4 separate regions of the Homo sapiens genome follow, and all the other regions are reported to be linked to region 1. Evidence: microRNA targets listed by miRTarBase, many of them from high-throughput screens and not tested one by one. Region 1 holds a microRNA gene; each other region holds the end of a gene's coding sequence.

Evidence for each region. Region 1 holds the annotated microRNA hsa-miR-377-3p (AUCACACAAAGGCAACUUUUGU, at 2,350-2,371, shown strand). A microRNA usually pairs through its seed, bases 2 to 8, with sites in the 3' UTR of a target mRNA and lowers its output. Matches are read on the target gene's strand: a 7mer-m8 pairs with bases 2 to 8, a 7mer-A1 pairs with bases 2 to 7 and ends in A, and an 8mer does both.
Region 2: the mRNA of TMEM69 is a reported target of hsa-miR-377-3p. Seed matches in the 3' UTR shown: 7mer-A1 at 2,434-2,440 and 7mer-m8 at 2,415-2,421.
Region 3: miRTarBase lists DUSP26 as a target of hsa-miR-377-3p. Seed matches in the 3' UTR shown: 8mer at 692-699 and 7mer-A1 at 733-739.
Region 4: the mRNA of DCAF12 is a reported target of hsa-miR-377-3p. Seed matches in the 3' UTR shown: 7mer-m8 at 342-348, 7mer-m8 at 686-692 and 7mer-m8 at 718-724.

What each region holds. Positions count from the first base shown.
Region 1 is chr14:101,059,745-101,062,895 of GRCh38, forward strand. MIR377 (microRNA 377) reads left to right here and starts at 2,306; the gene lies at 2,306-2,374. MIR496 (microRNA 496) reads left to right here and starts at 829; the gene lies at 829-930. MIR154 (microRNA 154) reads left to right here and starts at 11; the gene lies at 11-94.
Region 2 is chr1:45,693,337-45,696,487 of GRCh38, reverse strand. TMEM69 (transmembrane protein 69) reads right to left here. Exons shown (of 3, transcript NM_016486.4): 3 at 2,052-3,151. The coding sequence ends at 2,583. It also overlaps a transcript of IPP not described here. Among named protein-coding and RNA genes, the nearest start is that of TMEM69, 6.7 kb to the right of the region's middle.
Region 3 is chr8:33,589,273-33,592,272 of GRCh38, reverse strand. DUSP26 (dual specificity phosphatase 26) reads left to right here. Exons shown (of 4, transcript NM_024025.3): 4 at 61-943. The coding sequence ends at 260. Among named protein-coding and RNA genes, the nearest start is that of DUSP26, 9.2 kb to the left of the region's middle.
Region 4 is chr9:34,085,460-34,088,610 of GRCh38, reverse strand. DCAF12 (DDB1 and CUL4 associated factor 12) reads left to right here. Exons shown (of 9, transcript NM_015397.4): 9 at 103-2,224. The coding sequence ends at 261. Among named protein-coding and RNA genes, the nearest start is that of UBAP2, 38 kb to the right of the region's middle.

The DNA.
Region 1 (3,151 bases):
GCGCTAGCGTGTGGTACTTGAAGATAGGTTATCCGTGTTGCCTTCGCTTTATTTGTGACGAATCATACACGGTTGACCTATTTTTCAGTACCAAATCCCGCCTTGGAGGGCTTCCTGGAGCGGAGTCTTACTTCAGGGTGTCAGCTCCTCTCCAGGGTAAGGAAGGGGACCATTGACCATAGCCGACCCAGCAGTGTGCCCTGGCCCTAACCCTGTGTGTGCCCCGTCCTTGGGGAGGTTTCTAGAGATGGTGCCACCTTTGGGGAAGAAGTGGAGCTTTTCCTATCAGAGCTACTCTGTGGTACTGGTGGAGAGGTCTTCCATGATGCATTCGATTTATTTTTTGACCAATCCTACATAGTGGACTCTTTTGAAAGCATTAAATCTAGCCTTAAAGCACCCTCGGGTGGTGCCGAGTTTAGGAACTAGAACTGGTGTCTGAATGCCTGAACGCACGGCGAAGCTGACAGTGTGCACACTCTTCTTGGTGGGTCGTGCACCTGCAGGCGTCCTGCTTGCTTACCATGGCAGTTTCCTCGAAAGAGGCGGCAGTTCCCTCATCGGCTCACTGCATGTTTGACAAGACACCGTCTTGCTGTCTTCCCTGCTGCCCTCTCTTCATGTATCACAGATGGTGCTCTGCAGACCTCTCTGCTGTGGCACTTCCCTCCCTGAATGGCTTCCTGCAAGAGGTGCTAATTGCAAGTAAGGGATGGAGTGCGGCCCGGACCGCAGAGCTTATTTCGTGGGTGGTGTGTTGCCACCTTCCTGACTCTCAGTATCCCGTCCGTCCTCAGGCCTGCTGCTGGGACGCGCTGGAAGCGAGCACCCAAGTCAGGTACTCGAATGGAGGTTGTCCATGGTGTGTTCATTTTATTTATGATGAGTATTACATGGCCAATCTCCTTTCGGTACTCAATTCTTCTTGGGAAACGTCACGAGGGGAAAGCCCAGCCGGCACCTGCGCAGGGTAAGGAAGTGGATCACCTCCGCATGACAGGTGCTCTCTGTGTGACTTACATCACTTGGCTCATATCCCGGCCATCATTAGGAGGAATTCCCCGAAATGATGCTGACGTTTTAGTTGACATGGTGGTCTTCTAGTCGCATCCTTGAAGACTCGTCAGTGAATAAACCACATTTAGTCAACCTTTTTAGGTGTGAAATCATCTTGGCTGTGTGGCACACTTTAGGGAAAGGAACTCCTGGCTGAATGGAAGACATCCACATTACGCCCTCAAATACCTTATCTTCTGGGTGACCTCTGGGAAGCAAGGGGTGAAGGGGGTTTCCTCAGCAGTGAGAATTAATGTTGTTTAAAGACACATTTCCATGGCACGACTCGGTTATTCCTACTGCAAGACGAGAATTGTTAATAGCATTTATTACTACCTTATGTTGCCAGCTGTGTGCCCTTGGAAAATCCCTTCACCTATCAGCTCTCTGGGCCTCAGTCTCTTCCTCTGTAAAGCAGGGTTAACAGCGGAGTGGAAACGTGCTCTTTGTGAAGTGTCTAGACAGCGTCTGGCACGTGGCTGTAGGATAAGCATTGTTTCTGAGGATGGTCATTATATGAATGTTATGTCATCTGCACTCATTGTCCTCTCGCCACTAGAATGGAAGCTCCCTGAGGGCAGAGTCCTTGTCTGTTTTGCCTGGTGCTGTGTCGCCAGATGTGCACAGTAGGTGTGATGCTGAATGAATGAATAGGCAGCGTGACCTGTTTTCTTGGTTGAACTCTCTTTGAGGCCTCCTGGAATGGAGTGCATGGAGTACAGTCACCTGAGCCTGTGCTGTCCCTGTGACGCAGCCCCACCCACCCTCTGAGGATGCTGCGCTGGACGAGGAGTCGCCAGCCTTCAGGTCGGGTCCTCCCTCAAACCCCTGTAGGCTGGACTGAACACGGTCACATGGTTCATTGGCAGCCCCCTTCTCTGTGTGAAATCCTGCTTCAGAGACTTCCAGAGGAGATACCGGCTCTGGAGGTGGACCTTGGTGTTCCAGCCCCTCTAGGGTAGGTGACCAGGGGCTGACTCTAGCTCGGGCTGACCTGTGATGTGTGTGTGCATAGCCTCGCCCCCACTGCCTGCTCCAGGGCTACAGAAGCTGGTCCATGACCAACCATGTTCTGACCACTGCCTGGGGGGCTTCTCGGAGGTAGAGAGAGAGAGAGAGCAAGAGGGGAGAGAGCGAGCCAGCAAGCCAGCGAGCCTGCAGCTGGAGTCAGCAGGGAGGTCCCGCAGGCAATGCCGCCTTTGGTGAAGAGGCATCTCGGTGTGTTCTTGCCCGTGCTGATGTTTGACCCTTGAGCAGAGGTTGCCCTTGGTGAATTCGCTTTATTTATGTTGAATCACACAAAGGCAACTTTTGTTTGAGTATCAAATCCTGCTTGGGATGGCTTCCGGGACCCAGTGGCAAGCTCAGGGGCATCTACACCCCTCCCGTGAGCAAGAATGGACGGGGTAGACGTGGGTGGTCTGCCCTCTGCGGTCCTCTGCGGTGGATGAGAACAGATGTCGCTCAGAGAACACAAGCTTCATTCATGATGGGGGCGGGGCTCGCGGCCCGGGGAGGATGGCGTTGGTGTCGCGTCGGCTTTAGCTCTTACCCTGGACCCTGTCTCTTTACATCACCATTTTGGCTGTGTTGATCCCAAAGACATTTTGACTCCACCATTTTTTTTTCGGAAGGTATTTGACCTCGCGGATACACAAAGAGCTCACACTTGGCAGGGTCTGTGACGAGTCTGCAGCCCCAGACCCCCGTCTAGCTCACAAGCACTGTGCTTCTTTCTGCACCTTTCCTTGTCTCTATCTTTCTCTTTCTATCCCCCAACCAAACATTGTTCCCAATTTTCTCCTGGGTTATGAAACAAATAGAGGCTATCAGTATCTCATCCCATTTGTATTAAATAATACTGATAAAAATAATCAACACAAAATAAAACTAAAAACAGCTGAAACGGCACAGTGCTAAATGTGTTCAGTTGACTACAAATTGGCAGAGGAATCCAATTTTCTTGACAACATTTCAGCTGTGACATTTGACCTGGGGAAATAGCAAGCTGCCGACGTGGCAGCCATGGAAGGAAATTCACGGTGGCGGCGGTGATAAACAGTGATATTTGATGTAGACAAGAACACATTGAGGA
Region 2 (3,151 bases), not on the chromosome of region 1:
TTTTAAAAGAATGTACTAATAAAGTATCTAGTTTTTTTGTTTCTTTGTATTACTTTATCAGTGGCATTCTGGGTTACCAAACTGTAGTAGGATTGCACAAGTTTTTTAGTTGGTTTTGTTTTAACTTTAAGGACTTGCACATTTCATTTTACATTTAATTCTGTTTTTTGAGAAATGATTAAAGTGATCTACCTCCAAAATGTTTAACAATCCGATATGCTTCTAAGTATCCTGCCAATGTACTTAATCAAATGTACTTAAAAATCAGTTTTCTTAAAGAAGCATACACTGTAATTCACCTGGAAAAATAGCATTTTTAAGTAAAATTAGGCAATTAGCCTAAAAATATGATTTGCCTCTATTCTGGAAAATAATTCATTTAATTCAGATTATGGAAAAGTCTTAAATTTGTATAGCATTCATGCAATTTAATAACAAAGAAGTGAGTTTCCTTATCAAAACAATCTGAGTAGAATCAGATTGAGACTGAGTGGAAACATCATCTCTAAAAAATATACAGGCCGGGCACGGTGGCTCATGTCTGTAATCCCAGAATTTTGGGAGGCCAAGGTGGGTGGGTCACCTGAAGTTGGGAGTTTGAGACCAGCCTGACCAACATGGAGAAACCCTGTCTCTACTAAAAATACAAAATTAGCTGGGCATGGTGGCGCATGCCTGTAATCCCAGGTACTCGGGAGGCTGAGGCAGGAGAATCGCTTCAACACGGGAGGCGGAGGTTGCGGTGAGCCGAGATAGCGCCATTGCACTCCAGCCTGGGCAACAAGAGTGAAACTCCATCTAAAAAAAAAAAAAATTCCAGGTTATACTATATCCTGATCTATATCCTTAGACCATTTTTAATCCTTAGACCATTTTTAATGTTTTTCCTTTTTGGTGAGACTAGGAATTTCAGAAAACTAGGTTTTCTGTTAATTCTTTTTTTCTCCACCTTAAGTAGAGTGATTAGAGACTACGTTTTCAAGTGAAAATCTAAGGTGTTGCTTTTGCTGTTTTAAGAAAGCTTCTGCACTGGGTGCAGTGGCTCACGCCTGCAATCCTAACACTTTGGGAGCCTAGGCAGGAGGATTGCTTGAGCTCAGTTCAAGACCAGCCTGGGCAACATAGGGAGACCCTGTCTCTACAAAAAATTAAAAAATTAGCTTGGCATAGTGGTGCACAACTGTAGTCCCAGCTACTCAGGAGGCTGAGGTGGGAGAATTGCTTGAGCCCAGGAGGTCGAGGCTGCAGTGAGCCATGACCACACCACTACACTCTGGCCTGAGCAAGAGTGAGACCCTGCGTTTAAACAAAACAAAACAAAAACAAAAACACACCAAAGCTAAAAGCTTCTCTGTGATTTAAAAGATGTAGAACTAGACCAGCCTGTCCAACATGGTGAAATGCCACCTCTACTAAAAATACACACCAAAAAATTAGTTGGGCATGGTGGCACGTGCCTATAATCCCAGCTACTCTAGAGATGCTGAGGCAGGAGAATCGCTTGAACTCGGGAGGTGGAGGTTGCGGTGAGCCAAGATCGTGCCACTGCACTCCAGCCTAGGCGACAGAATGAAACTCCATCTCAAAAAAAAAGATGTAGAACTAGATAGGCCTGCTCATTAGAATATCAAGATGGCTCCAGCTTGACTTTTCTTTCCTAATTTATATGTACTAGTGGCTTTATTTTAAATAGTTTCCTTTGAAAATAATCATTTTGACCAGCTATTATGTGTTTGGTGGTAAGGGACAAGTTGTTATCTGTACCATGCCAAATATCCTAATAAAAACTGGAAAACATGTCCAACTTACCTTTGAATGTGGCTTTCCCTCATGACACTGCTCCCTACTGACTTTAGAGCCATAGATCCTTTTAGCTCATATAATTGGGTTATACCATGTGAAATAAGTTTGGACATGCCTTTCCCAGTGGTAACTCCTGTGAAAACTCAATGGAACTACCTTTTCTTTTCAGATACTCACAGATACGAGGTTTTCCGCTTGAAGTGGGAGAATATGTGCATTCTTTTCAATGATCACAAGACTCTAACAAAGGGGATTTTTAATCTTTAATTTTCAAGATGGTTAAAATATTGAAATGTTTAAGTGGATAACTATATTATTCATAAAATGACTGAGTGAAAACTAATATACTATGAGATGAAAAGTACTTGTCAGGGATTTTCAAGCTTTTGCTCAAGTAATTACCATGAAGTAACAATTTCTAGAAATGAAGAACAATCTGTGAAGATAAATTACCATTGGTGTGGGGAAAAAAAGCCAAACAGAAGTAGAAAAAGGTGTAGCTGGCATACAAATGTTATCTACAGTGTATTTATATATATATATTTTTAAAACTTTTAACTAAAAAGTAAACTTTAATGTCGAAAATGCAAACTTGGGGAAGACAGAAAAGATCACACACAAGGCTGTCACTTCACACGTGGAAGGTTGCACAGCGGCCGGGCAGAGGCGCTTGTCACACTTCCCAGATGGTCAGGCGGCCAGGCAGAGGCGCTCCTCACTTCCCAGACGGGGCAGCAGCTGGGCAGAGGTGCTCCTCACTTCCCAGACTTTTATATTTTTTATACTTGACCAGGTCTCTTATGTCCTTTTTCTGGAAAACTACTTTTAACTACTAAAGTGATTATAAATGAAAAAGTGGCCAATAAAGTGACTACTATCCTCAGGGCTTTAAACCAGTTGGGATAATGTGGTAAGAGAAAAAGTTCAAGGTGGAATGCTACTCCCATACCCATTATTACTGTGACTATGGCTTCACTAAGTCTTTCAGAAATAAGGAAGGCAAACCATGAAAAGAAAAGAGGAGCTGCACTGCTAGCTAAATTAAGGTAGTCTGGTTTGGCTGGACTACCTTCTGGTAGAGCAAAACCCCATCTGATCCCACCCAAGAAAGATAGGAAACTGGCTCCATAAGCCATCTGAGTAAAAGCTAATATGGGAATATAAGTTTTTGTCATCAGCATGACCAGTGGTGGAGCAACGAAGGGGATTAGTCCTGCCAGAGTTACACATAATGCTGGCTTTGGGCTGTCAGTTAGGTAAGTGATGGTGCTTGAGGGTCTGGCTAGAAGTGCTTGCTTCTGCTGCTTTTTAAAGCTGCAGGGGGATGTATGATAGCACTGTGTCTTGC
Region 3 (3,000 bases), not on the chromosome of region 1:
CCAGCCTCCTCCAAGCTGCCACAAGCAGTCTCAAAGCTCTCTCTGTGTCTCTCCTCTCAGGGAAGATCCTGGTGCATTGTGCTGTGGGCGTGAGCCGATCCGCCACCCTGGTACTGGCCTACCTCATGCTGTACCACCACCTTACCCTCGTGGAGGCCATCAAGAAAGTCAAAGACCACCGAGGCATCATCCCCAACCGGGGCTTCCTGAGGCAGCTCCTGGCCCTGGACCGCAGGCTGCGGCAGGGTCTGGAAGCATGAGGGGAGGGGGAGAGAGGTCAGGCCAGGCCCGTGGGTAGGTCCCTGGCTCCCAGCTGGAGATAGGAGGCCCAGGTGGCAGGTAGCAGGAGGCCCAGATCACCCATCCTCCCCTGGGGTCAGGAGAGGCCGAGCCCCAGGCCACTGTCACTCTTTGTGGGAGGGGACGGGGAGTGAGGTTGGGCAGTGTGGTGGATGGGCACCCAGGAAGGGTTGACCAGGGAAGGAGGCAGCTAGGCTGTAGATGGAAGATGGTCCTGGGATTCGAACACCGCTGGGATCTGGCCAGGGTGCTCCCTGGGATTCACAGTCCCTTCCCCTCTTTGTGCCCAAGTGTTTCCCTCTCTCCCTCACCAAAACAAAAGGGCCATCTCTGCCCTGCACTTGTGCAGAAAGTCAGGGATACGGCAAGCATGAATGCAATGGTGTAGAGTTGTGTGAAACCCCTAGCATAGAGACAGACAGCGAAGAGATGGTGTGAAAAGCTTGCAGAACCAGACAGAGAACCCCACAGACTTTCCACTCCAAGCACAGGAGGAGGTAGCTAGCGTGTGAGGGTTGGCACTAGGCCCACGGCTGCTGCTTGGGCCAAAAACATACAGAGGTGCATGGCTGGCAGTCTTGAAATTGTCACTCGCTTACTGGATCCAAGCGTCTCGAGGATAAATAAAGATCATGAAAAAGAAGAGAGTTTCTTGAAGTCATTGACAGTTTGAAAGAGTTCTAGGCCTCTCTCCTGGGAACCCCAACCTTGCTGGAGAAAAGAACAGTCGTGACTCCCTCGTATCCTCCACCAGCCTTCAAACCTCCACCAGTTCTTCTGGTGCTATTCTCCCAAGTCCAATTTCATGCTCCTACAGCGATATATTGGGCTGTTGTTTCCAGGTAGTCCACAAAGGGGCAGCAGAGGACCAGAAAGTTCAGGTTTGCAACAAGCTCTGCTGCTGTTCAGAGGGCACACCCTGTACCTTCCCAGCTTTGAAGAAGTCTCTAGACCCGGCGCAGGGGCTCACGCCTGTTATCCTAACACTTTGGAAGGCCGAGTGGATCACCTGAGGTCAGGAATTCAAGACCAGCCTGGCCAACACGACGAAACCCCATCTCTACTAAAACTACAAAAATTAGCCGGGCACGGTGGCGCACGCCTGTAATCCCAGCTACTTGGGAGGCTGAGGAAGGAAAATCGCTTGAACCTGGGAGGTGGAGGTTGCAGTGAGCCGAGATCGCGCCACTACATTCCAGCCTGCGCGATGGGAGCGAGACTCCATCTCAAAAAAAAAAAAAAGAGGTCTCTATTCACACACCTGGGTGTTAAGAAATATAATACCGCCAGGCACGGTGGTTCATGCCTATAATCCTAGCACTTTGGGAAACCAACGCAGGCCAATTGTTTCAGCCCAAGAGTTTGAGATTAGCCTGGGAAACATGGCGAGACCCCATCTCTATAAAAAAATTAAAAAATAGCCAGGCGGGGTGGAGCATGCCTGTAGTCCCAGCTACTTAGGAGGCTGATGTGGGAGGATCGCTTGAGCCCAGGAGGTTGAGACTACAGTGAGCTGTGACGGCATCAAGGCACTGCAGCCTGGGCAACAGACCAAGGCCATGTCTCAAAAAGAAAAGAGGCTGGGTGCGGTGGCTCATGCGTGTAATCCCAGCACTTTTGGAGGCTGAGGCGGGTGGATCATTTGAGATCAGAAGTTCGAGACCAGCATGGCCAACATAGTGAAACCCTGTCTCTACTAAAAATACAAAAATTAGTTGGGCATGATGGTGCACACCTGTAATCCCAGCTACTAGGGAGGCTGAGGCAGGAAAATCGCTTGAACCCAGGAGGTGGAGATTGCAGTGAGCGGAGATCACGCCACTGCACTCCAGTCTGGGAGACAAAGCTAGACTCCCTTTCAAAAAAAAAAGAAAAGAAAATACAGGGGGACCAAAAAAAAAATCACTTAATATAGCTGTATGTCCAGTCCCAAAGTACAGAACTCAGAACATTAAAGTTGGTAGGTGCCTTCATAGATTATCCATTTCCACTCTCCTCAATCATGGTCTTGCTCTGTTGCCCAAGCTGGGTTGGGGTGATCTTGGCTCACTGCAACCTCCGCCTCCTAGGTTCAAGCGATTCTCCTGCCTCAGCCTCCCAAGTACCTGGGATTACAGGCGCCACCATGCCTGGCTAATTTTTGTATTTTTAGTAGAGATGCGGTTCCACCATGCTGGCCGGCTGGTCTTGAACTCCTGACCTTAGGTGATCTGCCCACCTCAGCCTCCCAAAGTGCTGGGATTACAGGTGTGAGCCACTTATTCAGTATTTTTGATAACAGTCATCAAGCATTTGCTCGAACATCTTTGAGAATAGGAAACCACTACATAATTTCCACACCATCCCACCAGCTCTAAATTTTAGAAAGCTCTGCCTTGTATGCACATAATGCAATCGTGTTATGGTGGTGCTGAGAGGAGGTTGAAAGATCTGACCAGCCAGGATTCCTGGGCTGACTGTAGCACACGCCAATTAGGGGAGGTGACTAAGTCACTTACTTCTTCCCCCTCTGTTTACTGGCAATCGTACAGCAGACTTCCATGGGATTGTTGTGATCATTTAATTACATAAGAGGCTGGGTGCATGGTGGCTCACGCCTGTAATCCCAGCACTTTGGGAGGCTGAGGTGGGCAGATCACTAGAAGTCAGGAGTTCAAGATCAGCCTGGACAACATGGTGAAACTCTGTCTCTACTAAAAA
Region 4 (3,151 bases), not on the chromosome of region 1:
CCTGTTCCCTTAAGGAGACCAGAAAGCATTCCTGTCCCTTCCTCCCCCTTTTCCTGCCCCATGGCTAGAGGTGCTAATTGTAGTCTCTTTCTCTTCCCGTAGAATCATGATGAAACCTGGAGGAATTACTTTTCAGACATTGACTTCTTCCCCAATGCTGTTTACACCCACTGCTACGACTCGTCTGGAACGAAACTCTTTGTGGCAGGAGGTCCCCTCCCTTCAGGGCTCCATGGAAACTATGCTGGGCTCTGGAGTTAATGACAACTCCCCAAATGCAGAGATTTACACTAACTTCCATTCTCAGTTTCCTTGTTTCTTTTGATTTTTTTTTTCCTAATTGTGTGAGGCTCTTGTGTTTTAGTGGGAACACCAAAGTTTGCCTATAGTTTAGGCACTTAATAGGAAGAAGCTCTGTACAGAAATCTGAAAGTTGTTTTGCTTTTTGTTTTCCCCTTTGGTAATCAAAATTTTACTATCTTTTATTATTTCTGGCTTTTCAACCAAACATTGTTGCTAATCCCTATTTTTCTTTAAGTGACACACATTCTCCTGTCTCTGGCTTCTTCAGGCTGAAATGACATAGCTCACCCTTACTTCACTCTTGAGAGGTAGGGCTCCTTTATAATTACATGGTTGCTCTCAGACTTTCTGTGAAAGTTTGGGAGCTGTGTGTGTCTGTGTGTGTGTGAGAGAGAGATCTTGTCTGCGTGTGTGTGTGTGATCTTGTGTGCCTGTAGGTACTGTGTGTCACTGAAATTACCTGGAGTGAGGATTACTTGTAATTAAAATATTTATAAAAGAAACAACTTTATTCACAGAGTCCAGCTTTGGGACTAGTCTGTATCTTGTTTTTTAAGTCTAACAACACTGATAATAGGAAGTAAAAACAGAAAGGAAAAGAAATTACCACTGGGAAAATCTTTTTAGTTAGATTGTAGGCTTCCTGGGGCCTCCCATGCCAGGACTGCAAAGTGATCCAGCCCTACCTGTCTTCCCACCTGTGTGTCCCCCGTGTGGGAAGTTGGTGTCACTTCCCCTTCCCACCCTCACATCTGCTTAGCCAGTAGCCACACCCCTAAAACATCAGACTCACCATCCAGGTGCAGCTCCAGAGGCTACAAAAGGCTTCATGGGACTTGAATCCCCATCCTAGCTTCTCTCTCCTTCCCCTCAAGACCTGATCTGGTTTTAAGGGGCCTGGAGCTGGGAGTCTCAAGTCTGCTAAGATTCACATCCATAGCCCCCATGGCTTTGAGGAGAATCCTCTCTGCCATTCTTCCAATCTCCCCAGTGGGTTTTGCTATTATTTTCTAAATTGGGTTAAGTCTAAGAAGGTGGGGGTGAGCAGGGGGTTTATCTGTGTGTAGTGAGTGCTTCATGTGTGGAATATTCATTTTCTTACTGCAGTGGGACTTGGGGTTGAAGCCACCCCTCCTACTCTGTTGGCTTAGCCCTGAGATGGTGACAGGCTGGCCTGCAGTCAGCATCATTGTGCATGTGACAGCATCAATGTGATTAGTAATTTGTCTGTTCCTCCCTTGAACTGTCTGTTTAGTCTGAGGTTTTTAAACTTGCAGGCAGCTGACTGTGATGTCCACTTGTTCCCTGATTTTTACACATCATGTCAAAGATAACAGCTGTTCCCACCCACCAGTTCCTCTAAGCACATACTCTGCTTTTCTGTCAACATCCCATTTTGGGGAAAGGAAAAGTCATATTTATTCCTGCACCCCAGTTTTTTAACTTGTTCTCCCAGTTGTCCCCCTCTTCTCTGGGTGTAAGAAGGGAAATTGGAAAAAAAATTATATATATATTCTCCTTTTAATGGTGGGGGGCTACTGGAGAGGAGAGACAGCAAGTCCACCCTAACTTGTTACACAGCACATACCACAGGTTCTGGAATTCTCATCTTCGAACCTAGAGAAATAGGTGCTATAAACAGGGAATTAAGCAAAATGCTGGATGCTATAGATCTTTTAATTGTCTTAATTTTTTTTCTATTATTAAACTACAGGCTGTAGATTTCTTAGTTCTCACAGAACTTCTATCATTTTAAACTGACTTGTATATTTAAAAAAAAAATCTTCAGTAGGATGTTTTGTACTATTGCTAGACCCTCTTCTGTAATGGGTAATGCGTTTGATTGTTTGAGATTTTCTGTTTTTAAAAATGTAGCACTTGACTTTTTGCCAAGGAAAAAAATAAAAATTATTCCAGTGCACAATGGTGTGAGTGAGTATTGTGTAGCCAGGAGCCTGCCAAAAAGGCCCCACATGACTAGTTGGAAGGTTGGCTTGAGCTGTTGGGATTGCTTGTGGCAGAAGGGGAACACAAGCCATTACCTCCAGGTTAGAGGCAGGTCAAGTGCAGGCACAAATACTAAGACCTGCTTGCTCTGGGTCCCCAACTCTAGCCCAAGATGAGTTGCTCTGAGGTCCAGCTGAGGGTGGATATGCCCAGGGTACTGAAGTAGTGTGACGTTACTTCTGTTACATAAGTAAGGGTTGGTAATAGGCCCTGTCTGCTTGGATGGTGCCCTGAGAATGACGCTGAAAGTGCTTGCATAGTACTCTGGGAATAGGATATTAATTTTTGTTTTTTGTAGTTGGAACCATAGACCTTCACTGCCCTTTGTAAGGGGAAGACACAGTGACCACAGTGAGTGATGCTCTTCTAGAGCCTATTTGGAGCTGTAGCTGAGAGAAACTGCCAAATCATACCACCCTTCCTCACACAGTCATCTCTGGGAAACCCACCAGGGCTAGGCCGCAGAGCCTGGCAAGGCCGTCCCTATTCTTCTGCCACATGGTACTTGTTCTTTCCAGGGCAAGCTGGACACAGCTGCTCTATGCACCTGCCTTAGAGACTGACTGGTTCAGAACATGACACATGGGTTCCTATATGATCAAAGGCTGCAAGACAGGAAGGGGAGATGAGTAAGTTAAAGCAATTTGAGAGGGCTCCCCAGAGGAGACGAGTTACATTTGGAAAGGGCTGAAACTAGCCTTTCCCAAAATGAATTTAGAAGGTATTTGTAAAATCTTCATTGTCAGCCGGGTGCAGTGGCTCACACCTGTAATCCCAGCACTTTGGGAGGCCCAGGTGGGTGGATCACCTGAGGTCAGGAGTTTGAGACCAGCCCAGCCAA